Linked DNA regions of Homo sapiens: regions 2, 3 and 4 are each reported to be linked to region 1. The links are microRNA targets in miRTarBase. Many come from high-throughput screens and were not tested one by one. Region 1 holds a microRNA gene; each other region holds the end of a gene's coding sequence.

Evidence for each region. Region 1 holds the annotated microRNA hsa-miR-222-3p (AGCUACAUCUGGCUACUGGGU, at 4,806-4,826, opposite strand). A microRNA usually pairs through its seed, bases 2 to 8, with sites in the 3' UTR of a target mRNA and lowers its output. Matches are read on the target gene's strand: a 7mer-m8 pairs with bases 2 to 8, a 7mer-A1 pairs with bases 2 to 7 and ends in A, and an 8mer does both.
Region 2: the mRNA of PHRF1 is a reported target of hsa-miR-222-3p. The part of its 3' UTR that is shown has no 7-base or 8-base seed match.
Region 3: the mRNA of CLDN23 is a reported target of hsa-miR-222-3p. The part of its 3' UTR that is shown has no 7-base or 8-base seed match.
Region 4: miRTarBase lists PELI2 as a target of hsa-miR-222-3p. The part of its 3' UTR that is shown has no 7-base or 8-base seed match.

Annotation. Positions count from the first base shown.
Region 1 is chrX:45,742,231-45,749,348 of GRCh38, forward strand. MIR222 (microRNA 222) reads right to left here and starts at 4,894; the gene lies at 4,785-4,894. It overlaps MIR222HG (miR222/221 cluster host gene), which reads right to left. Exons shown (of 2, transcript NR_170290.1): 2 at 2,984-7,118. It overlaps MIR221 (microRNA 221), which reads right to left and starts at 4,036; the gene lies at 3,927-4,036.
Region 2 is chr11:610,862-617,979 of GRCh38, forward strand. PHRF1 (PHD and ring finger domains 1) reads left to right here. Exons shown (of 18, transcript NM_001286581.2): 17 at 93-221; 18 at 773-1,361. The coding sequence ends at 916. It overlaps IRF7 (interferon regulatory factor 7), which reads right to left and starts at 5,089. Exons shown (of 11, transcript NM_001572.5): 1 at 5,052-5,089; 2 at 4,484-4,786; 3 at 4,236-4,398; 4 at 3,936-4,146; 5 at 3,615-3,673; 6 at 3,313-3,538; 7 at 3,090-3,176; 8 at 2,924-3,004; 9 at 2,345-2,734; 10 at 2,138-2,256; 11 at 1,694-1,939. The coding sequence starts at 4,503. The coding sequence ends at 1,784. It overlaps CDHR5 (cadherin related family member 5), which reads right to left. Exons shown (of 15, transcript NM_021924.5): 14 at 7,093-7,118; 15 at 5,722-6,909. The coding sequence ends at 6,490. RefSeq lists enhancers at 1,573-2,167, 2,762-3,356, 3,951-4,545.
Region 3 is chr8:8,702,183-8,709,283 of GRCh38, forward strand. CLDN23 (claudin 23) reads left to right here. Exons shown (of 1, transcript NM_194284.3): 1 at 1-1,914. The coding sequence starts at 217. The coding sequence ends at 1,095. Among named protein-coding and RNA genes, the nearest start is that of CLDN23, 3.8 kb to the left of the region's middle. RefSeq lists a silencer at 1-107 and an enhancer at 1-548.
Region 4 is chr14:56,295,698-56,302,815 of GRCh38, reverse strand. It overlaps PELI2 (pellino E3 ubiquitin protein ligase family member 2), which reads right to left. Exons shown (of 6, transcript NM_021255.3): 6 at 1,292-6,216. The coding sequence ends at 5,650. Among named protein-coding and RNA genes, the nearest start is that of LINC02284, 12 kb to the left of the region's middle. RefSeq lists an enhancer at 5,468-5,967.

The DNA.
Region 1 (7,118 bases):
AGGTGTTCAGGGTACTGCATGGCTTCTCTTAACTGCTTATAGTAAAATGCAGGAGAGAAATATAGTGAAGATGGAATTTAAACTCAGAGGAGTGGCCAGGCATGGTGGCTCATGCCTGTAATTCCAGCACTTTGTGAGGCCAAGGGTGGGTGGATCTATTGAGCTCAGGAGTTTGAGACCAGCCTGGGCAACATGGTGAAACCCTGTCTCTACCAAAAATACAAAAAATTAGCCAGGTGTGGTGGCACATGCCTGTACTCCCAGCTACTCGGGAAGCTGAGGTGGGAGGATCACTTAAGCCTGGGTGGTCAAGGCTGCAGAGGGCTAAAATCTCACCACTGCACTCCAGCCTGGGCAACACAGCAAGAACCTGTCTCAAATAATAATAAATAATAAAATCAAAGGGGAAGCAGAATTTAAAGGTTTGGAACATTCTCAGCCTGGCCAAGTGCAAAAGCATTTGGAAGAAAACACCAGGGGTGTGAAGAAGTGACCATTTGCAAGGAGATTAGTATGGATAGAAGAAAGTCATACACTGTTCATCAAGACAATGAAAAGTGACCCTGAACACGGTGAAACCCCATCGCTACTAAAAATACAAAAATTAGCTGGGTGGTGGTGCACACCTGTAATCCCAGCTGCTGGAGAGGGTGAGGTGGGAGAACCACTTGAACCTGGGAGGTGGAGGTTGCAGTGAGCTGAGATCGTCCCGCTGCACTCCAGCCTGGGTGACAGAGTGAGACTTTGTCTCAAAACAAAACAAAACAAAACAAAAAACACCCTGAAGGCATATCAGAGACTATTGGTGCTGCCTTTCTCATGACAAGCCCGGAGTGCCAAGGCCTGGGGCACATAACTAAAACTAGGGGCTTAGGGTAACCGAAGAACCTCTGCGTTCACTGCCCAGTGATGCCTCATCTCTGCTCCATTTACTCCAGTGTAGCACTCCTCACCCACCTCAGCTGTGGTTATGCCTAGGTGTGGCTAGTGCCCCCAGTGTCCACATTATAACTCTGCAGACACACAGAGCGCAAGAGCTGTGGAGGAATGACTAATTCCACGTAGGTTTCAATGGATGACTTGGAGAGCCTCAGGACCAACACAGAGAACTGAGACAGGGATAGTGCCACCAGACTCCCCAGTGGGACAATGCCCAGGGTAGCCATAAGATTGGGACTGCCTCTGAGACTCCAGTACTGCAGAGCCACTGGAGTGTGATCCTAGCCTGGGAGAGCTGCAGACACCCAACTCCAACTTGCGAGGTGCTGTATAGAATATGCCCAACAAAACCATGGGGCTGAGGCCCCCTATGGCCTTGGGGGCTTAACCTCCACTCCAGTGTGTCTAGATTATTCTCAAGCCTTAAGATTTAATGTTGTTTACCTTGTTGGTTTTAGCACTTACTTAGGACCTGTTATTCCTTCTTTCTTTCCTATTGCTTTGTTTTGGAATGGAAATGTCTATCCTATGGTTGTTCCACCATTGTATTTTGGAAGTATATAACTTGTTTGACCTTATAGGTTCACAGCACAAAAGCAATTTGTCTCAGAATGAACCTTACCTTCAGTCTCACTCATATCTGATTTACATGAGATTCTAGACTTTTGAGTTGATGCTGGAACAAGTTAAGATCTCTGGGGCTACTGAGATGGAATGAATATATTTCATACGTAAGAACATAAATTTGGGGGGCCAGGAGCCAGACACTATGGTCTGATTGTGTCCTCCGAAGTTCATATGTTGAACCTTAGTCATCAGTGTGATAGTATTAAGAGGTACAGGCTTTAAGAGGTGATTAGGTTACAAGGGAAGAGGCCTCACTGATGGGATTAGGCTCTTTAAAAGGGGCTTGACGGAGTGTGTTCTTTCTCTTCTCCTATGTGAAGACACAGCATTCATCTTCTTTTTGCCCGTTCATCATCATATGAAGAAGCAGTAAGAAGGCCCTCACCCAACACTGAGTGCCAAGGCCTTGGCCTTGGACTTCCCAGCTTCTAGGACTATAAGAAAATAAATTACTGTTCATTATAAATTACCCAGTCGCGGGTACTTTGTTATACCAGCATGAATGGACTAAGACAGTGATCAACTCAGTTGTCAGAGGTCAGGGGTGGGATTGAATGTTGAAAGCTCCAACCCTCTAATCATACCTTGGTCTTTCTGACAACCAGCCTTCATCCTGAAGCTAACTTGCCACCACCTCTACTCCCCGCTAAGCCAAGTCATCTCATTATCTTGTTAGCATACAGAAAGACACTCATCACTCCAGAGAGTCCAAGGATCTTAGAAGCTCTTGTGTCAGGAACAGGGGACTAAGACCAAATACTTTAACAAAAGATGCTATCACCTCTATTAGTTAGAAAATTATGACAGTTTTAGCAGCTCTGTTCCAGGAACTGAGGGTGAAGACCAAATATGTCTTTTTCTTATTATATTATCACAACATTCAATCTTGCTTTGAGGATCAACCCAATACTTGTACCTGAGAGGGAAATGTAAACTTATCAATGGAATTAGGGAGTTCTTCACACCTGGCACCACTGTCAACACCTTCTCATTTAATGATAGGCAAAGGGACTCAAAGAACATCAGAAGTAAGGAGTGGAGGACTGGGCATGGTGGTTCAAGCCTGTAATCCCAGCACTTTTGGAGGCTGAGGCGAGAGGATCACTTGAGCCCAAGAGTTCTGTACCAGTGCACTCCAGCCTGAATGACAGAATGAGAACTCATCTCTTTAAAAAAAAAAAAAAAAAAGTATGAGTGGACATGGGAGAAGAGAAACTGTCCCTTTGGTAATTATGATTTATTAAACATAACCATGTTGCACAGAGCCACTTATTTCTCTTAAAAGCCTGTCAAACGTCTTAAGTGGAATTACTTTCTCTTCCCGGGTCACAAAAGCCAGTGGCTCAGGTACAGAATAGATAATAGAACTGATTGGTGAGTAGGAAGCCAAAAGACACACACAGAGAACAGTACAATCTTTTAAAAGCTCCAAGTCATTAGCTTTATTTTTACTGAATTCAGCATGGGATGACAAAAATGCATTATATCACTACCATCCATTATTACATGTAGACATTTATCCTTGTATTCTTTATATGTCCATTTTCTACGTTAAATCTGTTAACCAATACTAATTTAAATTACATGATTTCCTACTAAAAATATGCAGTTCATATAAGCAAGGGCAAATAAATCCTCCTTAAAACATTTTATTCCTTTATAATTGAGAACTTAACAGTCTTAATGGCTAGTTCTTAAAAAATGTTTATAGGATTAAGTTTATTTAAGAGAGCAGACAAACAAAACATATTGTAAAACTAGTATTTTCCAGAAGCAATTTCCATTCTCTTCCTTTCTTCCTGCAAACTGGTGTTTTATCTTTACAAGTTCTCTGTCATTCCATAAGAAAGCTGAACAGTGGTTAAAACATCCAGTTTGCTTGAATTCCTGAGTGATTCAGATTCCAGTGAGATTGAGGGTCATTCATAACAGTTACAAGGCTGGTGTGGTAAAGGGAGAACAAAAATAAACTGGGTTTCTGCAGGTAAGTGAGAAGACAAAATGAAGAGGAATAAGGTTGTAAGGCAGTATGATTAGGCTTGTGGGTGCTATGCCTTCTGATAATAATTATGAACAGAAATAGAAGCCAAAAAGTAAACAACATGTAAGTTGTCAATCTTTGACAGTTGAGGCAGGGAGAAGGAAGGAAGGATGACATTACACCTTATCTCTGGTTTACTAGGCTGGTGTGTGAGACCATTTGGGTGAAATCGTATTGAAATCATTCATTGCTGAGGTGATCAGCTTTCTTGCGGTCCTTTCTCTGCACTCTATTCAATGATAAACTCCACTGGTTTATACCTCCTGGAAAACAGTTATTCAGAAACATTATAGGGGTAGCATTGGTGAGACAGCCAATGGAGAACATGTTTCCAGGTAGCCTGAAACCCAGCAGACAATGTAGCTGTTGCCTAACGAACACAGAAATCTACATTGTATGCCAGGTTCATGCCCCAGACCTGGATGTTCAGCTTGCAAGTAATTCTCACATACTATTTCAACACAACTGCCTACTGCATTCAAGATTTCAAAATTGGCATTTGTCTTTTCTACCACAAGGAAAAGAAAACCAACAGTCAGAAATGCTGGGACTTACCTACTACCAACAAAATTTCCTTAAACCATCATATCATCAAGTTGTCATCATTTAATCATGACATCATGTTGAAAATGCCATCTAAAAGTCAAGAGATGAAAAAGCTGGATGGAAGGAAGGTCGGATAGATAAACTGGTAGGTACGTGGGCAGGTGGGTGGATGGATGGATGGATGGGTGGATGGATAAATGGGTGGATGGGTAGGGGTAGATAGGTAGGTAGGTAGATAGATGAATAGATTGATCTATCCAAATGATACCTTTCATAGGGGGGAAAGAGAAAAAAAGAGGTAAAACAAAAACAGGTAAGAGCTAAAACATGGATAAATATCCAGATTCCTCCCCCTTGTAGTATTGAAAGCAAATAGACCTCATCATTCATAAAACCTTGAAGGTTCCCAAGCCCCAGCTGATAATGTTGGACTTAACACCCTAGAACTTGACTCTCTCCTCTCTCTCTGTCTCTCTCTCTCTCTCTCTCTCTCTCTCTTTGTGTGTGTGTGAGTGTGTGTGTGAGTGTGTGTGTGTGTGTGTGTGTGTGTGTGTGTGTGTGTGTGTAATTCAAGGTAAAGTTTTCATTATTAAAGACTGCCCAATAATCTCTCTCAGGACACTGAAGCAGAAGCTAGAAGATGCCATCAGAGACCCAGTAGCCAGATGTAGCTGCTGATTACGAAAGACAGGATCTACACTGGCTACTGAGCCATTGAGGGTACCTACACCTTCCAGCAGCTGGGTGATCCTTTGCCTTCTGGGGAGGGGCTCTGTGGAAGAAAAAAGAAGATATCAGATTTCAATTGCACATTTTCTTTGGATCATGAATTGACATTTTGACAATATTCCCATGTACGTAATTTTAAACAACCTCTGGATTTATTTACTTATCCAACAGATACTGACTGAGTGACATTAAATAAAGTGCCACATATTTTCTTAGGTGCTGGAGATCCAGCAGCAAACAAAAAAAGTGGAAAATCTCTATACTTCTACAGCATACATGATTCCTTGTGACAAAATCTACAATCAATTATTTGGTATGTTTTGCAGTAAAATGGAAATATACACAAGAGAAAAACAAACAAGCAAACAAAAAACCAATCTACCATTTTATTGTGGCTTGGAGCATTTTTGTTGCTTCCTGTCACTTTAACTTGGGTAATCTAGCAATGATGCACATATGTAAAGTAAATTGCAGTTAAAAAATTCTTTCGTGTTACGAACTGAGGATAATACAGTTATTTTACCAAATATCTCAAACACCAAAGAAAATTACAGAAAATGCATATTATAATAAATATTCAAAGCAGGTGCTCACTAGCATGTCAGTTCCAAGCTTTCCTCCCATGATACAATGAAGGTAACAAAATAAGTCACAGGATTGGTGTTCTCTTTGCTATTCATTTATCCACCCCAGAAATACTTACTGAGTACCTTCAATAAGTACCTTTCAGTACCTTACTGAAATACTTCTGCGTGCTTTATTCCAGGCACTGGGAATGCAACACTGAACAAAATCCTTGCACTCACGGAAGTTTAAGTCTAAGATTTAAGGAAAGGGTAGAAAAAGACTGAAAAAAACCTCCATAGATATGGACGGTCATTTCATAGAGTAATGAAACAGTTAAGAGGAATGCTATTTTCGATAAGGTGGCTAGGAAAAGCCTCACTGAGGGCCTGGCATTTGAGTGGATTCCTGAAGTAGGAGGAGAAGAATCATGTACATACCTGGGGTGGGAAAGGACACCACAGGGAGAGGCAAGAGTCAGAACAAAAAGCACTGAAACAGGAAAAAGCCTGGTATCTTGGACAAGGTGTTCTTTTATTAGCACATGACCACATGGCCAATTATTGTTTCCTACTTTTAGGATTATTCTAGAAGGTAAATGACTATGCAACTTTTCTCCAAGTACACGTCTTAGAATCCTTTGCTGTGAATTTAAAATGCTTCAGCTATCACTTAGAAAAGATTTAATAAAGCTACTGTCAATTGGAAACTAGTACCATTTGATCGGACATGCAGCTATACCACAGTATGACACACACATATTTATCACCAAGAGAAAAGTGGCTTTTTAAAAATGTGTTAGCTATAAGAAAAGATAACCAGCTTTCTGGGAGCTCTAAATATATACATATCTAGGGAATGATTTAACTATTTAATCACAGATGTCTAATTTTAAGAGGCAACTCACTTGCCAAATTATAGTAATAGTGCTTCACCAGTGTGGTTAGCTCTTGGTGGGGGAGGATAAGGGTGGAATTTACAAGGTGAAGCAGGGGTTTTTTTGATTGCTTGCTTTTTTTTCTCTTTAAATAAGTTAAGGCCAATCCCATCTATGAAGTATATTTTGGCACTGCCTACAAACCAGAGCATACATACTGAAGTGGGGGAAAAGACCGTTTATATAGGTTTGGCTAAGTCTTACCCTCAATGTAAAATAAAGCATTTGTAGAACACACAAACTTACATTTCATAAACCACTAAAACTAACTGTTCATAACTCTACTTTTATGAATAAGACTAACAATTAAAGTGAGGCAAGGGTTTAGTGTGGTCACTTTCAATGCCAAAATACAAAAGATTATCTTTTATAAATCTTTACATTTAGATGAGAAAAGGTAAATTTTTAATTCTCAAAGGTATCTATTCTCCACATCTTAGTACTAAAGTTAAGGTGGTCTTTTGCCCCTTGTTTTAAATTTAATCTAGGTAATACAAATAGGAAAATCTGTAAATAAAATTTTATTAAAGGTTATTCTGTAAATTAGTGTCAACCACTAAACAATACTATACAGTTTTAAGTTTATTAAAAACACAAAGAATAGAATATGTAGAATATATAACACCATAGAATATTAACCAATAATGCATTTTCAGTTTAAAAATAAAAGGAAAAGAAAAGAAATAGGTTCAAACTAGAAATGTTGAGTTATATAATTCTGTTATCTAACAATTA
Region 2 (7,118 bases), not on the chromosome of region 1:
TGGAACTGCAAGGGTGTCCAGAACCACAGTGCCTCTGGCCAGAGGGACTCCCGGCTCCCTTCCTGGCCGCATCACACACATGTCCCCTCTAGTACATGAAGAAGCTGCACATGCAGGAGCGTGCTGTGGAGGAGGTGAAGCTGGCCATCAAGCCCTTCTACCAGAAGAGGGAGGTGACCAAGGAGGAGTACAAGGACATCCTGCGCAAGGCCGTGCAGAAGGTGGGCTGTGTGCGAGCCTGTGTGTGGGGCTCGGGGTCACGGGCGGTACGTCGCTGCTGTCTCGTCAGCATGGACTTTGGGGTGGCCATGAGTGCAGGCCCGAGGTCAGCCAGCCAGGTTAGGGGTCAGGGGGCTGTATTGCCACATCCTGTAGGCCTGGGGTCAAGCCTGTTCGCCTGTGGCTGCCCCTGGCAGATGCTTAGGAAGGAGGGTGCCTCAGTGCACCCTGGGTAATTTAAAACTACCCAGCCCACGCCCAGCTTACAGGTGGGAGAACGACCCCCAGAGGTGAGCAGTTGCCTGGTGACGTCTCAGCCCATGCTCCCCCCGCCCACCGACACCGTGGGACCCTCAGTGGCCTTGTGAGCGGCATAGCGAACAGGACGGGGGTCTCACATAGGTGGGGCGGCCTCTGCCGCCGTCTGTCTGCGTGCTGCACCTAGGGCCTGCTCCTGAGCAGGGCAGGCGAGGGAGCCCAGCTTTGGCCCTGGGCTCTGGCCCGGAACATCTGGATGTGAAAGGGCATTTGGTGATTGCACCTCTTTCTCCAGATCTGCCACAGCAAGAGTGGAGAGATCAACCCCGTGAAGGTGGCCAACCTGGTGAAGGCGTACGTGGACAAGTACAGGCACATGCGCAGGCACAAGAAACCAGAGGCCGGGGAGGAGCCGCCCACGCAGGGGGCCGAGGGCTGAGGCCAGGCAATCACGGGCTATGCCCGGGGAGCTGTCGGGAGTGGCGGGAATCGGGGCCATGCCCGGGGAGCTGTCGGGAGTGGCGGGAATCGGGGCCATGCCCGGGGAGCTGTCGGGAGTGGCGGGAAATGGGGGGCATCACCATGCCTGCCGTCGGGTTCCTGCGCTGACACCTGGTCTGTGCACCTGTGTTGCTCACAGTTGAAAACTGGACACTTTTGTATGTATATTATAGAGACACTGTTTCCATTCTAATTTATCAAAAATGGATTATCTTTAGAAACCTCTTGATTGACTTACTACTTGGAAGATAAAGCACTTGGTGATCAAGAGGGGCTCCTGGTGGGGTGGCGCGTCCTTGATAAATCTCTAGGTGGCCTCCCGCCAACAGCTGCTGTGTACCTTTGGCTCTGAATTAGGAATATCTTTACTTTCTCTTTTCCAATTATGTTGTGCTCTTGTAAATAATTGCTCGAGTTTGCACTCAACACCGTTGCCTCCTGGAGGCAGGGTGCAGCAGTGGCAGCCTGAGGGCTGGCGACAGGTGTCCTGCATGGGGAAATGCTGTCCCTGCCCTTGGCACAGCTGGTGGGAGTGGCTTTGGCGGCCACTGGCCTGTCAAGGGTCTTGTTCTTTGAGTCAAAGCTTGGCTGTGATGTGTGTGGTGAAGACAGAAGTGAGTTGGTGTGCAGGGAGGCCGTGGAGGTCCCCTCCCTCCCTGGGCCTCACCCGTGTTCAGCCTGGACCCAATTCCCCACCAGCCAAGATGCCAGTACGTGTTCTGGAGTTCTTTTTATTAGACTGGGCGGCCGCGGCCAGCTCTAGGTGGGCTGCTCCAGCTTTCTGGAGTTCTCATTAGACTGGGTTCTAGGCGGGCTGCTCCAGCTCCATAAGGAAGCACTCGATGTCGTCATAGAGGCTGTTGGCGCTGGACAGGCAGAGGCTGAGGCTGCTGCTATCCAGGGAAGACACACCCTCACGCTGCGTGCCCTCTAGGTGCACTCGGCACAGCCAGGGTTCCAGCTGCCAGGAGGGATCGGGCGTCTGTCAGTGACCCGGCGTGTGTCCTCCCCTCCCCCTCCCCAGGCTCTGAGGGCGTCGGGCGTCTGTCAGTGACCCGGTGTATGGCCTCCCCTCCCCCTCTCCGAGGCTCTGAGGGCATCAGGCGTCTGTCAGTGGGCCTGAGCACATGGCCTCCCCTCCTTGAGGCTCTGGTCTCACCTTCACCAGGACCAGGCTCTTCTCCTTGGGCCTCCCAGCTGACAGGTCCTGCCCGAAGCCCAGGTAGATGGTATAGCGTGGGGAGCCACGGCGCTGCCGTGCCCGGAATTCCACCAGCTCTGAAGAAGGGGACTCTGCTGAGTACCTGGCAGGCAGGTGCTCCCAAGGACCCCTGGAGACAGCCCCCCAGGCAAGGGCCTCACTGACCTTGGAAGAAGACTCTGAAGTCGAAGATGGGGGTGTCACAGTTCCGAGGCAGCAGGCAGGCTGGGGTGGAGGGGCTGGCGGAGCCTGGGGGTCCGCCCACCTCCCAGTACACCTTGCACTTGCCCATGCGCCGGGCCCACAGCTGTGGCCCCCGAAGCTCCAGGTGCAACCCAGGGGCCACGTGCCGCAGCAGTTCCTCCGTGTAGCGCAGCTGCTTCTGGTCCGGGAGCTCGGCAGGGCTGGGGAATGCTACCTGCTGGGGGTCTGTGGCCCGGACAGCTGGGTCTGGGGGGCCGTATAGGAACGTGCAGCTCGGGTGTCCCACCACCTTCTGCAGCACCGTGCGGCCCTTGTACATGATGGTCACGTCCAGCGCCCCTGGGCTGGGCTCTGTGTGGAGACCAAGCTGTGAGTGACGGGGGTGGGCGGGGACAGGCTGTGAGTGACGGGGGTGGGCGGGGACAGGATGTGAGTGACGGGGGTGGGCGGGGACAGGATGTGAGTGATGGGTGGGCGGGGACAAGCCGTGAGTGACGGGGGTGGGCGGGGACAGGCTGCCCCTTCCTGGGATGCACTCACCTTGCACCGCGGTGCAGGCGCTTGGGGAGGGTGACAGGTACGGCTCTGCCTGGTGCGGGGACTCTGGGGCCGCGGCCTCGCCTGCATCCGGAAGGGAATCCTGTGCTGGCACCTCATCCCTAGCCTCTCCCTGTGCCCCAGGCCTCCCAACCCCTACCCCTCTCACCTGTCGTTAGTGCCGCGGGCTGGGGCCCGGGGCTGGGGGTCGTCTCTACTGCCCACCCGTACAGCTCCCCAGCAGGGAGCCCTGGGCCTGAGGAGGGGAGGACAGTGGGAACGGTGGTCCCCTCCTAATTCTCCAGCTCCCCAATCCCCAGCCCCCTTCTAAAGTGTCCGTCCAGGTGCACTGGCCCCTCCCGCGCTCCCCCCCTCCCCGGGCACGCCCACACCTCCAGCACAGGCCCCAGTCAGGGGAAGCCCTTCTTGTCCCTCTCCAGGAGCCTTGGTTGGGACTGGATCTGCCCCCCATGACGCTGTCAGCAGATGGTCTGCCAGGCAGCTCTGTTGCACTGCCTGGAGCAGGAGGTCCCCCTTGTCACCAGCTGGGGCAGGGAGGGGGCCTGGGGCTTGGAGTCCAGCATGTGTGTGTGCCAGGAATGGCCCTGGGGGCCCACCCTGCAGGGAAAAGTCAGGGTGAACGTAAGCAGCTCCGCGGCCTGGCAGGAGGAGAGGCAGGCAGAGAGAAGGGTACCTGTGGTGGTGGGACAGCTGCGGGGGCCTCTGCCTCAGTCTGGTCCGTGCCTGGGCCTTCTGAGAGAGAATGGGGCAGGCGTTAGGCCCCGACACCAGAGTGAGAGATACAAGGAGAGCCTGGTGTAGCCCCCACCAGCTTCCTGGCTGTGAACCCTTAGGCTGTGGCCTGAGGAGGTGGGGATGTGGCTCTCCACCTGTCCTGGGCCTGCTGGCAGCCTCTCCCAGAACAGCTTCTAAAACCACAAATCTGACCCAGAGAATGTTCCCCTTTGCCCAAGCAGGACGAATGCCAACGCCCTTGGCAGCCGGCGTCGCTCACCTCGCCAGCACAGCTCCCGGCTGAGCGCGTACACCTTGTGCGGGTCGGCCGGGTCCCCCGAGTTATCCCGCAGCATCACGAAGCGACGCGTGCTGCGCAGTGCGCAGCGGAAGTTGGTTTTCCAGCCGGCGCGCTCCGCAGTCTCAGCCTCGGGGGGCGGGCCACCTCCCCTGCTGCTAGGCGGCCACCTGCCGCGGGCCACAGCCCAGGCCTGAAGAGGGGGACAGAACACGTGTGCCGGGCCCGCGGGGTCCTAGGCGGGCTCTCCCACCCGGGGCGGGGCGGGGCTGGGGTCCCCACCTTGAAGATGCGCGCGTCGGCCTCGCTCAGGTCCTTGCGCGCGAAGTGCTTCCAGGGCACGCGGAAACAGGTGCGGGCCTCGTCCAGCCACTGCAGCCCCTCATAGCAGCCGCTGCTGATCTCTCCAAGGAGCCACTCTCCGAACAGCACGCGTGGGGCTGCCCTGCGGGTGCCCGGCCGCGGAGAGTCAGGGCCGGCTGCAGGGCGCTCGGGGACTGGCATCTGGAGAGGGTGGGCCGGGCTCTTACCTCTCAGGAGCCAAGGCCATTGCTCCTTCTGCAGGGGCAGTTAGGTGGCGGTCAGGTGTTATAACAGGGGAGGTAAGGGCTCCTGTCGCAGCAGACGCCAGGCCGCGGCCACAGGTCGTGTGGCCAGGTGTCACAGGTGTCCACAGGTGTGGACTGAGGGCTTGTAGCCACCGACGCTGCCTCGGTATGGATCTCTTGGCAGAGGGGGCTACAGGTGTGACTGCAGGTGTGGCCGGCGCGCACACATGAAGTCACAGGTGTTGAACCAGTGTCCAGGCCTGGCGGGAAGGCGCAGGCCGGACCCTGCGGAGACGGGAAAGGCGACGTCAGGGGCGGGTCAGGCTCCCGGGAAAGCGAAACCTAAACAGTGGCGCTTCGCACCCTCCTCGATCCCACCCCGTCCGGTTCTCAGCTCCGCGGAACCCCGCCTCCGCCTCCGCCTCCCTCCCCGCCCGACCCTCATCTCTCAGGCTCCCCCAGCTCTTGGCTCTACCCCTCCGGGGTCACGGAGCCCCCACGGAGGCTCTCGCTCCCGGCCTGCACCGCGTGGGTCTGGGGTCCCCAGTACCTGGGTGCCAGAGCCGCCGGGACGGGAAGTTTCGTCTCGCGGGGAAGCGGAGGGCCGGCGCTTTTATGGTGGCCAGGCGGGAGTTTCCGGGAAGGGCGCGCGCCGCCTGTTCTTATTATTGGATGCGACCAGCGGAACCCCGCCCCGGCCAGCGCGGAGTAGGGAGGAGTGGAGGGCGTTGGGAGTGGCTGCAGTGAGCCGAGATGGAGCCACTCCACTACAGCCCAGGGGACAGAGCAAGACTCAGTCTCAAAAAAAAAAGGAAGTGGGTAATGGGAGGTGGACGTGCCTCGAAAAAGGGGCAGCTGCACCGTTTGCGTTTCTTTTTTTGAGATGGAGTTTCGCTTTTGTTACCCAGGCTGGAGTGCGGTGGCACAATCTTGGCCCACCACAACCTCCGCCTCCCGGGTTCAAGTGATTCTCCTACCTAAGCCTCCCGAGTAGCTGGGATTACAGGCATGAACCACCACGCCCGGCTAATTTTGTATTTTTAGTAGAGACGGGGTTTCTCTATGTTGGTCAGGCTGGTGTCGAACTCCCGACCTCAGGTGATCTGCCCACCTCGGCCTCCCAAAGTGCTGGGATTTAGGCGAGAGCCGCCGTGCGCAGCCCCCTTTGGGTTTTTTACATTGTTCAGTCAAGAATATCAGATACTCTCACAATTAAAACATTTGGAAAGGAATTAATGGTGTATTTCCATTAGGGAAAGTGCTGACAAGCCGCAAGGGATCCCTTGATGGTTCTGGGCATGGGCGCCCAGCCTGGGCTCTGGCTTTGGGAGCAGCGAGGGGAATGTGTCTCTCACCCCTAGGCCTCCTGGTCTGGCTCCTGCTCAGGCCACACGGCGCACCCACCCCCAGCGCGCCTCAGTCCAGGTCACTGGGCAGGGTGTTTACTGCTGCGCTCCAACCCAAGCATGTAGATTTCAGAAGGGGACTAGGACCCCCGGCAGGTGTTTGAGACCACCGGCTCCCAAGTGCGTCGCCTTGGGGGTTTGCATCGGCTCCTCAGCCTCCCCAGGCAATCTCTGTGTAGGGTCGGGAGCGGGAGGTCTGAGATGAGCCGGGTGCCTGAGATCTCCGGTGCAGGTCGGGGGAGGGGAGCCCCCCTCGGGCTGTGGTTAGAGCGGGAGAGGAACTTCCCAGACTAGCTGGCACAGAGCCTCGGGAAGGCGGCGGGCACTGCAGGTGGTTTACGGGAAGTGCTGCAGCCTTGGGGTGGGGACAGCGTGGCCAGACCCACCGCCTCATCTGCACACCTGGGCTCAAGCGCTAATGACGACAGGGGACTGAGTGAATGGGACCCCCATGGACCCGCGCGCCTGCCCCACGCCATGGCCTGGGTTTCGGGAGCCTTGCTTTATTCTGCCTCGGGTCGGAGGCTGGGGGAGCGAGACCTCCAGTGCCCGTGCGGCTGGGGGAGAGGGTGGAGGGGCCACTTAGATGTAGGAGTCATCACCACCGGGCGCATCGTAGGGACCCCCACCCCTCCCCGCGCCCTCGCCCTCATCGCCGCTGCCGGAGTCACTGGCGCCATCCACGTCCAGGGTGGGCGCGTTGAGAACGACCACGTCTGCCTCCGTCCCGATGTCCTCGCCAAACCAGACAGCCTTGTACCCGCCCTCCGGCCGCCGCTCCTTGGTCAGGATGGACCTCACCGCCGTGGGGCTTCCGCCAGCTCGGGCCGCTGCGGGGGGCTCAGGGGCACCGCCTGGGGAGGCAGGGCCGGGGGGTGCGGGCTCTGCGGGCATCGGTGCCTCCGCGGGCTTGGGGTCGTGCGTGGGGCTGGGGACGGGCGCCCAGTTGGCCTTGTGGTCAGGGAGGAACGCCTGGTTGTCAAAGCCTTGGGGCTGGGGCTCCTGCAGGCGGGAGTCGAGGCGTCAGCGGGGTCCCTGGGTCTCTGCAGCCTTGGCCCTGCACACCCTCATTCCACGCTGGACACCCCTCCGTCTCCACATCTGTCCCTCTGCCCTCCCCTCTCCTGTCCCCCGTCCCCCACTTCCTGCCTGGTCGCCTGCCCTGTTCTCCATCCTGGGCCTCACCGGAGCTTTGCCACAGCAGCACTTGA
Region 3 (7,101 bases), not on the chromosome of region 1:
GAGGGAACTAGCCTAAGTGGGGACGGTCCCCGTGCAGGAGACAAAGAGCGTCCCTGGAGCGATCAGGGCTCAGGAGCCCGACCCGGAGCCCGGGGCGTCCGCGCTGACTTCGGGTCCCCGGAGCCTGGGGCACGGCAGGGAGAAGACGACGGCGGAGAAGGCGACAGCGGAGAAGGAAGGCAGGCTGCAGGGGCGCCGTCGGCGCGGCGGGCCGGGATGCGGACGCCGGTGGTGATGACGCTGGGCATGGTGTTGGCGCCCTGCGGGCTCCTGCTCAACCTGACCGGCACCCTGGCGCCCGGCTGGCGGCTGGTGAAGGGCTTCCTGAACCAGCCAGTGGACGTGGAGTTGTACCAGGGCCTGTGGGACATGTGTCGCGAGCAGAGCAGCCGCGAGCGCGAGTGCGGCCAGACGGACCAGTGGGGCTACTTCGAGGCCCAGCCCGTGCTGGTGGCGCGGGCACTCATGGTCACCTCGCTGGCCGCCACGGTCCTGGGGCTTCTGCTGGCGTCGCTGGGCGTGCGCTGCTGGCAGGACGAGCCCAACTTCGTGCTGGCAGGGCTCTCGGGCGTCGTGCTCTTCGTCGCTGGCCTCCTCGGCCTCATCCCGGTGTCCTGGTACAACCACTTCTTGGGGGACCGCGACGTGCTGCCCGCCCCGGCCAGCCCGGTCACGGTGCAGGTCAGCTACAGCCTGGTCCTGGGCTACCTGGGCAGCTGCCTCCTGCTGCTGGGCGGCTTCTCGCTGGCGCTCAGCTTCGCGCCCTGGTGCGACGAGCGTTGTCGCCGCCGCCGCAAGGGACCCTCCGCCGGGCCTCGCCGCAGCAGCGTCAGCACCATCCAAGTGGAGTGGCCCGAGCCCGACCTGGCGCCCGCCATCAAGTACTACAGCGACGGCCAGCACCGACCGCCGCCTGCCCAGCACCGCAAGCCCAAGCCCAAGCCCAAGGTCGGCTTCCCCATGCCGCGGCCGCGGCCCAAGGCCTACACCAACTCGGTGGACGTCCTCGACGGGGAGGGGTGGGAGTCCCAGGACGCTCCCTCGTGCAGCACCCACCCCTGCGACAGCTCGCTGCCCTGCGACTCCGACCTCTAGACGCTTGTAGAGCCTGGGGGGCGCCGGGTGGCAAAGGACTCACCCCCGCACAGGCCCGCCTGGCTTCGAGTTGGAACCCGGACACTTGCCCCTCACTGGTGTGGATGGAAATCTGCCTTTCGTGGGACCAAACAGGACTCCTTGGACGATTAGTTCAGGTTGGGTTTGGTTTTCTTCTTAAAGAGTTTAGTTTTCCTCTCCAGAGGGATCAGGGTCCTCTTAGGGAGTGACGGGCTTTTCATATATTTTTGCTGAAGAATATATGGAAAGGGTGGCATTTGCGTCACGTGGACCAGGGACAGTGCTGAAATCAGCAGTGCTCAGAAACAATTTAACATGTTGAAACGACAATATTCTAAAATACTGATGAATCTTGCATCAATATAATTATTGGGTTTTTTTTCTTTTTCCTGCTGTATAACTCCTTGCCATGCAAACTCTCAAGAGGCCAATATATTCCTGGCCATGTTTGAATGAGCCTCTTAAAATAAACTTAGAGCCATGCAAATGCCAGCAGCTTAATGGATTTCATGGAATGAAATACCGTGATTAACTCATAGCTACATATCATTGCATAAATGGGATTTATCTTTTTTCTCACTTATTTTTGCGGTGAAAGTCGAGGGCATGCAAGAGTTTCTCTTCCAGAAGCCAAGAGGAGAACAAAGGTCCTAATGCTGTACTATTCCACCCTTTGGACGCCTCATCCAGGACGCAGAGGACTCTAGGTTTAACATTTTGTACAAAATGGAACCTGTTAATCATATTAAAGCACATATGTATATATCTTTTATTTATAAATAAAATTTTAAAACAATAGTTTCAGTATAGCCACAAAAGCTCTTTTGTCTTCAGTACAACGTTTGGGAGTTTAAACATTCATTACTAACAATTTCCTGGCTGCCTCGGCACTTGTGTCTGAAATCTAGCACTCAAATCTTTGCACCTCTTAGCATAAGGTTACTAAAAAAAGCCAACGGGCCCCACTTAAGTCCCTGATTGCTTTGGTTTTAGGTTCATGCCATTTCTGTGCAAAGCCAAGTCTATTGCTGAGAAAACGAGAAGCACCAGTTTCCACTTGAGGTGAGACTGGAAATCTTTTCCTTTGTAGCAGTGGTGTTTAGAATCACAGGAAGGCAGCTATGTGTTCCATGAAGGGGACTGGGTCTCCAGCAGGGCTGGCTTCAATTCCAAGTGGTTGATTTAAGGGTACCTTTAACCGAACTGAATCTCTTCTTTAAAACCTGCCGTTCAGAGGTAGGAACATTCATTCAGTTCAGCAAGCACTGATAATAGCTATAGTGAGGCTAACTTAATAGCACATGCTGCCTGTTAGAGTGGAAGGGATGACAGAGATTCACTTCCCTTGCCATTTGGTACTGGAATCACTTCTTTCTCTCTTTCTGAAGCCAGGCTTTAACGTGTAGGCGGTATCACTTTGGAATCTCTTTCAAATGCAGATTCTGATTCAGTAGATCTGGAGTGAGGCCCTGAAAAGATTTCCTAACTGGCTTCCAGGAGATGCCAATGCTGCCGGCTCATGGACCACACTTGGAGTTGCAAGGCTTTCGCTGGGACTGTCTCACTCAAATTTCAATCCCAACTGGTGGCTCATATTCAGACCTTTGAGTGCCTGCTACCGAGATGCGCTTGGGGACTTGCTCGAGGGTACAGAGCCAAAAGGGAGAAAGTGCAACAGGGCTCTTTTCCACTAACACCTCCGAAGGCAGCAATTAGGGACCTGAGAAGTCAGCACCTAGCAGACACCGTACAGGTACTGGGCTCCTGGCAAATGGTGAGTCTGGGCTGCATCATAATTCTATCTCCAGGGAAGCTTTGGTAAAAACACACAAAACTTTTGTGTGTTTTGCTTTTCTCCCCATCCCAATGATTCTCCACTGCCTTATATGCAAAACATTTCCTGCCTGAGGATTAGGATTCGGTTGCTGGGAGTTAAAACTCTACTTTTCCCCTATCAAGAGAACGAAGCCAAAACTCCTCCTTTAAAAATACAAACTCCTTTTTGCTATAGAAATATTCAAGACAGCCTGTAATCCCAGTGCTTTGGGAGGCCAAGTGGAAGGAATGCTTTGAGGCCAGGAGTTCGAGACCAGCCTGGGCAACATAGCTAGACCCCATGTCTACAAAAAAATTTTTAAAAGTTAGTCAGGCATAGTGGCAACATGTCTAGAGTCCTAGCTACTTAGGAGGCTGAGGCAGCAGGATCACTTGAGCCCAGGAGTTCAAGGCAGTAGTGAACTAAAAGCACATCACTGCATTCCAGCCTGGGCAACAGAGCGAGACTGTCTCTTAAATTAAAAAAAAAAAAAAAAAAAAAAAAAAAAAAAAACGGGCATGATGGCTCATGCCTGTAACCCCAGCACTTTGGGAGGCCGAGGTGGGCCCATCACGAGGTCAGGAAATCGAGACCATCCTGGCTAACATGGTGAAACCCCGTCTCTACTAAAAATACAAAAAATTAGCCGGGCATGGTGGCGTGCGCCTGTAGTCCCAGCTACTCGGGAGGCTGAGGCAGGAGAATGGCGTGAACCCGGGAGGCGGAGCTTGCAGTGAACCGAGATGGTGCCACTGCACTCCAGCCTGGGTGACAGAGCGAGACTCTGTCTCAAAGAAAAAAAAAAAAAAAAGGTTCAGGAGAGCATGGAAAGAGAGTCCTGCATCAGTCTGGGATCCACGTTTGCCCTGCGGGTCATTCTCTGCCACAGCAAGTCTCAGGAGTTGCTGCTGTGGGCAAGAATTTATCCTAAACTTTTCCTAAACTTACCACTGACCAGCCCAGCAACTGCACCACAGAGAACACACTCAAAGCACTTCTGTCTTGTATCAAGCCCTCTGACCTACCAGACTCATGTTTAATCCTCCCAATCCCCAAAGGAAGTATAAGTCCCCATTGAATGGATGAAGTCTTTTCTAGATTACTCAAGTGATGCCAGGAGGACGGTGAGTTCTGTGAAGGTAAGGCAGAAACTGCTTTAACACATCCCTGCTCTACCCGTTCGCCAATCTGGCTCTTATCTGGACACACGCCCTCACCAAGGAGGGGTGTGGCTTTGAGCACACAGCTGGTTCTCCACCGTGGAGGCTGCGGGAGGTGCTGTCAGGGTGCTTTGGCAACCATCCTTCCCTTCATTGTGTAGATCGTTCACCCAGTATGTTTTTGAGCGTCTGACATTTTGCCAGCACATTTGTGGGCACCATGAAAAACAATACCATCCAGGCCCATTCTGTGTGGAACTTAAATAATCTCCTGTGATCATGTACAAATAAAATGAAAAAGATTAAGCCAGAAATCAAGGGATGGAGGAAGAAAGGTGTTTTTTGTTTTTGTTTTGTTTTTGGGAGACAGGGTCTCACTCTGTCACCCAGGCTAAAGTGCAGTGACATGATCAGGGCTCACTGCAGCCTCAACCTCCCAACCTCAGTGGATCCTCCAGCCTCAGCCTTCCAAGTAGCTGGGACCACAGATATGCATCACATCACCCAGCTAATTTTTTTTTTTTTTAAACAGACAGAATCTCACTATGTCACCCAGGCTGGTCTCGAACTCCTGAGCTCAAGTGATCCTCTCACCTTGGCCTCCCAAAGTGCTGGAATTAGAGGTGAAAGCTCCCACACCTGGCCAAAGGTGATATTTTAGGAAAAGTGGTCAAGAAGAAGGAGGTACTTGGGCAGAGAACTGAAAGAAGAGAGAGAGGAGCCTTTTAGGCAGAAGGAACAACTTCAAGTTTCCACTAGAGAAAATGTGAAAACAGGTGGGCGTCTCAGTCTTACTACCAGCTAGTTTTGCTTCTCTTTCTAGAATCGGGTGGTAAGGCCAAGAAGCAGCTGGTGGTACAACGGAGTAACCCTGAGTCAACCTTGTCATCTACTCTTTGCCAGGCTAACAGATTCTTTCAGAGGGAATACCATCTGGAACAAATTCACCCTGTCTTCTAGAATATTTCCATAAGCAGACAGGGAGGGTCTCTGGGGATTCTAGGAATTTAATCAACTTGAGCAATCAGCCTGTTTTGCAGCCTCGTGCCCTGCAGTCTGTTTCTTCCTAGACCCTGCGTGGTCACCCAGCAGGTTAAAGCAGCTCCTGACAGGCCCCAACAACTTTTAGATGAATTCGGTGAACTTTCCTCATGGCCATTCTATAGTCTCCACCCCAGGGGAAGAGCAGCTTCAGCAGCAACCACATGCGACCTATGTGCTGGCATGAGGACTCACTGCATTGGTGCCACTGGGACCCCTCCTCGGCATGCGACGCAGTCCCTCCTGTCTCCATTACCCCTTAAAACCCTCCTGTCACATTCCCTCTGGGAGACACTGCTTTGGAGAATAATCCCAGTGCCCCTCTTCCTTGTGCCAAGTAATAAAACTCCTATTGATCACACACCTGCGTTCTCAAGGAGCGTGGTTTGTTATTCATCGGACCAACAAACCCTGATTTTGGGGGGGTAACATTTCCAGAATCAAAAATAAGCAATTTCTTTTTTTTTTTTTTTTTTTTTTTGACAGGGTCTCCCTCTGTCACCCAGGCTGGAGTGTAGTGGCATGATCTTGGCTCACTGCAGCTTTAATCTCCCAGGTTCAAGCGATTCTCCCACCTCAGCCTCCCAAGTAGCTGGGACCACAAGCACACACCACCACGCCTGGCTAATTTTTTGCATTTTTTGTAGAGAGTGTGTTTCTCCATGTTGCCCAGACTGGTCTCGAACTCCTGAGCTCAGGAGATCCACCTGCCTCAGCCTCCCAAAATGCTGGGATTACAGGCGTGAGCCACCATGTAAGCAAAAAATAAGCAACTTCATGTGTGAATAGTCCTCCACTAAGCAGGACTGAACACATGAAAATGAGGTTTCATTTGTTCAAATCAAGGAAAATATAGACAGAGCTTAGCAGGGGGGACAGTGCTGACAAGGGGACTTGATTCTTCAGTGGCACATGGAGAGAATGGCTTAAGACTTGATTGAACCCATTTAACTCTTGTCCTACTGGTGGCCCAAGTTATACCAAGGCGCTGACAAGGTGAGCCAGCAGCCCCTCTTGTAAAGCAATGTGACCAATAAGCTGGGTTGAGAGCCTGGGAAGCCAGGAGATGCCTTTCACAGGTACCAAATGACTCTCCATTGTTTTGCATAGAGAAAGTGACATGGAGCCTGAGGCCACTGACACTTCTCCCCCACCACCATGTTTGCTATTCACAGTGGCTCCCAAAGAGCTGCTCTCACCACGGGGCTGAGGGAGGCTAGACAAGATCACTGCAATTTTTCTAGAACTTTGATGATACCTGTCTCCCAAGAGGGTAAGCCTTGCCCTTGCTGGGCTTCTGTTTCCTCATCCATTAAACTGGGAAGAATGAATTAGATATTTTCAAAGGGCCTCTCTAAATTTATTCTGAGGGTGGCAGTTAAGAATTAAAGGAGGCTGAGAGGAGAGAAGTAAAATTTGAACAGTGGAGCCTGAGGAAGCTGAATGATGTGTAAAATTTTTTTAATAATAATTTTTTTTAACTTCCAGGGTACATGTGCAGGATGTGCAGGTTTGTTACACAGGCAAACGTGTGCCATGGTGCTTTGCTGCACAAACCAACTCGTCACCTAGGTATTAAGCCCAGTACGCATTAGCTCTTTTCCCTAATGCTCTCCTCCCACCATCCTCCTCCAAAACATCCCAGGGAGTGTTGTTTCCCTCCCTGTGTCCAGGTGTTCTCGTTGTTCAGCTCCCACTTATGAGTGAGAATATGCAGTGCTTGGTTTTCTGTTCCTGTGTTAGTTTGCTAAAAATAATGGCTTCCAGCTTCATCCATGTCCCTGCAAAGGACATGATCTCATTCCTTTTTATGCCTGCATAGTATTCCGTGTTGTATATGTACCACATTTTCTTTATCCGGTCTATCATGCGCATTTGGGTTGATTCCATGTCTTTGCTATTGTGAATAGTGCTGCAATGAACATACATGTGTATGTATCTTTAAAATAGAATGACTTATATTCCTTT
Region 4 (7,118 bases), not on the chromosome of region 1:
ATCCATGCCAACATTCATTATTGTCTTTTTGACTTTAGCCATCCTAGTGGGTATAACGTGGTATTGTGTGGTTTTAATTTGCACTTCCCTGATGGCTAATTGTCGAGCCATGTTTTTATGTGCTTACTGGCCATTTAATACATTCTTTGGAAAATGTTCTGAAAAGTTATAAACTTTTGATCGTCTTTTAAAGAGGTTGCATTTTGATGAGTTGTAAGAGCCTGTTACATATTTTGGACCCAAGTTCCTTATCAAATATATAATCCCTAAATATTTTCTATTTTGTGAGTTGTCTTTTTACTCTCTTGACAGCGTCCTTCCATGCACAAAACTTTAATTTTGATGAAACCCAATGTTATATATTTTTTCTATTTTTTTCTTGAGACGGAGTTTCGCTCGTCGCCCATGCTGGAGTGCATGGTGCGGTCTCGGCTCACTGCAACCTCTGCCTCCAAGGTTCAAGCGATTCTCCAGCCTCAGCTTCCCAAGCAGCTGGAATTACAGGCGCCCATCACCACGCCCAATTTTTGTATTTTTAGCAGAGACGGGGTTTCACCATGCTGGCCAGGCTGGTCTTGAACTCCTGACCTCAAGTGATCTGCCTGCTTCGGCCTCCCAAAGTGCTGGGATTACAAGCGTGAGCCATTGTGCCTGGCCTTTTTTCTTTTGTTGCTTGTGTTTTTACGTTTGGTATGTCAAAAATCACTGACAAATCTAAGGTTACAAAGGTTTACATTATGTTTTCAAAGGTTTACATTATGTTTTCTTCTAAGAGTTCTATAGTTGTAGCTCTTTGACCCATTTTGATTTAATGTTTGTATGCTGTGTGAGGTGTATTCCTTGCCCAATGGAATGTAACTTACAATTATAACCAGTTGTGATTTTCTATAACACATCTCACAATTCGTGGCATCTTAGATTTGACAAAGTATGGAACACTTATCCCCTGAAATAAAAGCCTATATAAATGTGCATTTTTTTTCTGGAAATGAAAAATCTGTTTCTCTCAATAATACTAAAACTCTTTGAATATCAATGTGATGAGAACAAAATTTGTCATAAATATATACATTTTCTTATGATAGATATATTAGTTTAAGGCTTCAAGGAAGGCTTGAAGGCTTATACACAATCCTTATTATGTTGTTAAAAGTGAATGAAGACTGTCACAAGAGCAGCAATATGGCTGAAATGATCATGACAAAAATCCATTAATTCTACAAGTCAGGTTAAATTCCCCTGGAAGTTAACTTTATTTGACAGTGATGTAATGTCACGAGAAATAGTAATATAGGCACCAAGGAAATTTCTTTAATTAAAAAATGTAGGGGATTTTCAGAATCAAGGTTTAAATATGTATTGTGCAGAATATAAAACAATTAATAAACTCAACAGCTGGAGATTAACTTGGAAGTTAGAGAAGTGAAAAAAATCAGTTCTACTCGTATCAACCTACTAAATGTCCTAATGAACTCAGTGACAACCACAGAATCTGAAGACAATGGCTCACAAACAGGCTGATATCCATTTAATAGTTTTTGAAGATTTTTTCCTGTAAAATGGCTTGTATTTCCACAGGTACAATAGTGAAGAAATAAACTTTTCAATTTGACATGAAATATAAAACAACAATTTTACAAACATATTCATAAAATTTAACTGCTAATAACACAATACATGGTAAATGTGACCATCCCCTTAACTTCTAGACTATTTAATACAGAGAAGCAATCTGTCATCTCAGCTAAAAAGAAACATCTTTCCTTTCATTGAGTTTATTTTTGTTTGTTTAGAAACTGTCAAGCAAAACTGGAAAATACTTATTTTCCTTATCTTCCTCTAGGGATTCTTCATGAGGGCAAAGACTTATTTGAAAGGATGTAAGTTATACTAAAAAGAAAATACTGAACCTTTTTTTTGTGTTACTGCTTCAATGATGCTTAGATTATTTTAAAAAGATGCTGAAGTCGTCTCATTGGTCGCACAGAAGGAGGCGCATCATAACCTAAGCCACAAAGGCTAAACTACTGGGACAGAAGATTGACAGTAAAGGGATGGAGATGGATTTGGCTTAAAATCAAAGTCCTGTGGTTTGTCTATCAGAAATTCCACTGTTATGAGGCAAGGCTGCAAGAAGATAGTTTTTACCCAGCATTAACAATGGTGTAATCACACACCCTTTCAAGCACATCCAAAGAACAGAATGGCTTTAAAAAAGAAAAGAAGTGAAACAAAACCATAGAACTGCAGGTAACAATTCTACAACCTATATTACACTTCAATTAAGCAGAAAACTCTCGTAAGTGTCCACACAATACTGAGCTCCCAAATAACAGAGGTTTGAGTTTTTCCATGAAAAAAAAAAAAAAGACATTGAAGCTTTATGAACTAAAGAGTTCTCCTCAAGTTTCCCAATACAGTAAATGTAATAACTTAAAATAATTTCCCTATTGGTACTGGAAAATAAATTCTACTACAATCATGTTTATGCCAGTTTCTGACATATTTCTGCATCCAGATTCATTAGTCTCCTTAATGGAGCCCATCATTTTTCCAATGGCTTTCTCCTTTCTTTAAACCCTAACCCTGAAATTCTATAACCAGTTATATCACGTGGCTTCCCTGAGGCACAAAGGTACCAAAGTCTATAATTAACTATCGAGGAATGATAAATATGTTCTCTATTTATATTAACAGATTTTAATTCTTTTGGGCCACAGTTGGGAGAAAAAAATCCAGAAACCTTAATACTCTGCAGGGTGAACTGTAGCCCTTTTTGCTAAAAGCTGAACCAAATAAGGGAAATGTTGAGAGTTGCAGCATGCATGACCCGGCAGCACCGATTATTAATAAAAAATTCCGGACTAGAAAAATACTCAGAGTTGTACTCCATCCACTCTGAATCTTTTTTTTTGTAGTAAACGACATAAACAACTGAAAAATATTTCTATGGGAATACATCACTGGGACTTTTACTTCTGGAAAGCTACTTGCAAAAGGCATTAGAGTCAGGCCAAGACAACTAATTGGTCTGCAATTTCCTTGTGTATACACATGGGGGAGTGGGGCTAGTCCTTTAAAGTGATGGCAAGACATAAAAAAAGAAGTGACCTTGGAGAAATTACTTTTCTGAATTGCGTTTCTCCACCTTGGTGAGCTACAGAGTTCTTTATTTTCACAAACTAACTCAACTGTGAAAAAAAAAATCTCCTTAGTCAAAATTGTAAAGGGATCTTCCTACAAGTGGCCAAGAAGAGCCTGGTGTCCTTTTTGCTGATTTGCCACCTCTCTGCAGTTCCTTAGGCAGGGTGGGCGGGACCTGACTTTGGAAGCCAAAGGAAAAGATGTGGAGCCCATGGAGGGCGGTTCACTGTTACCCCTTCCAAGAGCTTGGAAATTATTTCCCAAATTTCAACTTATATTTAAGCTGAATTTACTAAAAGTCAGAAACTTTTAGTTAGACATATGCCCAACTACGGGACGTGTCCAACTTGGAAGGTAACTTCATTTTGGGGGATATGTCACGTTGCAGAATGACTAGACTTATAAACAGGACTTGAAATGGAAAATTATGATATACCTAACTCTCTGGAAAAATATCTTTTTTTCTTGGTAGGTAAAATCTGGCCTTTCTGGATGCAAGACCATTTAGCTTACAAGATGGTTTTAGGGCATCAAGAATCCTTCAACCACTTTCTAGGCATACAGCAAGAAAAGAGAACGAGTGCCTCCTTTGTCATTCTTTGGGGCCCAAAGAATTACAGGCTGAAAAGACATACTCTATCAGTGAAAGCTAATCATCAGAGACTCTGGCTAAATCAAAAGGCATTCAATATATTATTCTAGGCAAGTCCATTTTTTTCTTTCATTTTCTGTCTGCAGGTAGAGTAAGCTATACAGAATACAGCAAGCTATCTGTAAGAGGACTGTTGTCATCGATTTTCACACCATTTAAAATTTACCCAAACAAAACCAAAACCAAAAATGTCTCATCCTAAACAATGATCTCCACTGAAAAATAAAGCTATATTAAAACTGAGAGGCTGAACTTTAAACATATTACATCAAATTAAGCAGCAGCAATCAAGAGTAATATTATCGTATCACTTTAAGGAAAAGCGTATTCAAATAGGTTAGAACGACTGAAAATAGGCAAAATATTTGCCAGTAGGCAAAATACGAAAAAACCAATTCAAGTATGGATATAGTACATTAGAATCATATAAATTACGTATATGTACAAAGGTTAAAAAAAAGTCACCCAAATCTGCAATGGTCAAATTAAGAGAACATTAGTTTAAATAAATACTTATTTTATCTCAGCCAGCTTCTACCAGTCTCATGTCCTAAAGGATCTTTACCTTCTAGGAGCAGTGATACGATCGATGCCAAGCATCCAAGAATTATTAATCAAAATGAAATGAAAGTAACAGGAATGGTGGAGCTCCTATGAAATTCTCATTTAATTATTCCTCAGCAACACTCATTTGCTCTCTCAAAAGCAGGAATTTTGAATTATCTCTGCAGATGTACCACTTGGTGTTGTGTATATCTAATCATCCCACTTAAATTTAGTTTGATTCGCAAACATTTTCAAAACTTACTGGGCTCCTTAAGCTGCAAGGGAAGGTGACAGATGGTGAAAAGGGAGTGCACAACAATGACTATATCATTGTGATTGGTTGGCTTTCTTAACAAAGGAAAAAAAAAAACCCCAAGCTTTATGAAACCTCAAGTGGTTTTAAAAAGTAAAAGCTTATTTTTAATCATTCTTAAATCTTAATTCAGTCAGCAAATAAACATGGTAGTATAGTACCCAGACCATGTCTACTACTGTAATTACCCTCAGTTAATGAGTTTTTAAGAGCTGATGTATTTTAATCAACCAAACAGTTCTGGCCGTGCAAGATGAGTATCGGGGCAAATCATATTAGGCAGAAATAACAAAAGACAGGCTAAAAAGTTATGGAAAATTGTTTGTGAAGTCCCATGTATTTGATGAATGAATATCTAAAGTAAATTCCACTGAAGTTAAAAAAAAAAAAAGCCCACAAGTTATGAATATTCTCTCCCCCAACAAGTCAGAAAAATAAATCAGAAAAAGCCCCAGATTTCAAAACCACCTGTGCCTAAGGCCATCTGTCCACCAGTCACACTGTACAGAGCCGCCCCTCTGCTGTCTGGTCAGGTTTGAGCCACGATCAAGTATTTCTAGACACTGTGCGCCCTTCGCGTAACACCTACACCACACTGCACTGAAGTGAACTTCATGAGCCCACACTTTTGAATAAATTTCTTCTACATCTGTAAAATATGATTTAAAGTCTTGTCCAAGATTACAAAAAAAAAAAAACTTGGTTAAAAACCCAAGGTTAAAAATAGAAGCATAGCATTTTAAATCCAATTATTACAAAGATATTATGGTTTAATCAAGCAGACTTCAATGACGACGCTGCTGTTTTGAGCATGCAACACACCACTGGTATCTGTTACACTCCTGCCATGTTTCATCACCATGTCCCCTCTCTTTATTTCCAGCCCCTGTCACCCTCCTCTGATAAACAGCATTACAAAAAGGTAAAATCTAGAGTTAGTGGCAAAATCTTCACAGTAACCTGTTAATAAAGTCGTAGATGGCTGTCAAGGGCGTCAGTCAATTGGACCTTGGAAAATTAATTTGATGCAGTTTTGCTCCCCAACCAGCTGTGTAGCACAGAAAGGGCAAGCAGCGTGAAATGCATGAGTTCCATGAGGCAACGGGATCTGAGACCAGTATTTTGCAGACTTCTCCGAGCACACGTGTCCACAGGGAGTGAAAGCATGAGTTGGCGGTCCTGCGTCTACATAAAATCCTGCCTCACAGCCAAGCCAGAGAGGCACATAGGGGCCCACAGTCCTGCACATGGGACACTCCCTCTCGTTGGCCTCCGTGTCACTCCGATGGCCCCAGTTGTGGTACCCGTGCACGTGGCCACAACTGAGATATGCCCAGGGCTGCTTCTCCTCCACCACCTCTTTCCTGTTGATGCTGGGGAAGGCCAGGGTGTTGAGCCCCACAGGACACTGAGGCCGGGCGGCGTTAATCTCCTGCCGGAGGGCTTCTATGTGCTTCTGAGTTGGAGTATGAAAAAGCCCATCTGCTGTTCTCCAGAGGAGAGTGGCCCCACACAGGTCAATGAGGGAGCCGTCCTGCAGGACGTTGGTCTCACTTTCCACCTACAACAAGTTTGAGACACATGCCTTTTAAAAGCAAAATCAAGCAAATCACTCCAAGATTCTTTCCTCTCAGAACAAGCAAAAAAATATTTGAAGATAACACAGGGAAGCAATTTATCCCACAAAAACAGAACTGGGGGAGTAACCTATCCTCCCCGAGCCTCATCTTCCTCATCTGATCACTGGATATGATACATATATGCCGTATGTACAAAGCCCTGAGCACAGTATGTATACCTAGCTTTACATGTTCAATTACTGTAGTGGTTATTTTAATGAACTTCACAAATCTCCTAAGATTTTCTTTTTAACTCCTTAAGTCAGTAACACAATGACTCACTGATCCCATAGGATGAGAGATGTCCTACCAGTCCATCCAGTGGAGACTCATCCTCATCTTGATGACAGCCAATCCAGAAGATCTTGCGGGGGGCCTGCAGTCATTACTGGAGGGTCCAAAGCACTCCTGGTGACCCTTAGCTTCCTCCACCTTGAATCTATCTTTCATCATTCATTTTTAAGGTTTGAAGCTAAACAGTTCAACATGAGCCTTCATTTTTAGAAGGAGGCCTGTGCTATGCACTAAGTGCTTATAAGACTGATTAACAGCTGACAAGCAGCAGCTAGGCGTGGTCAGCAAGAACGTGACCGCTGCCTCCACATGCCAGATGCATGCTAAGCCTTGGAGGTACCAAAGGCCAATAAAACCTCTTCCCCATCCTGCTGAGACTTGCTCTTCAGTAGTGGAAGGCAGACATGCCCAGAGCTCAGAGTGCATGAAGGCCAGTAAAGCACTGTTCAAGGCCACAAATTTATAGCAGCCAGGAGTGTGGACTCTGGGTTTGAACCCTGGCTCTCCCACTTATTAGCTGTATGACGCTGTGCAGATTACTTAAACTCCT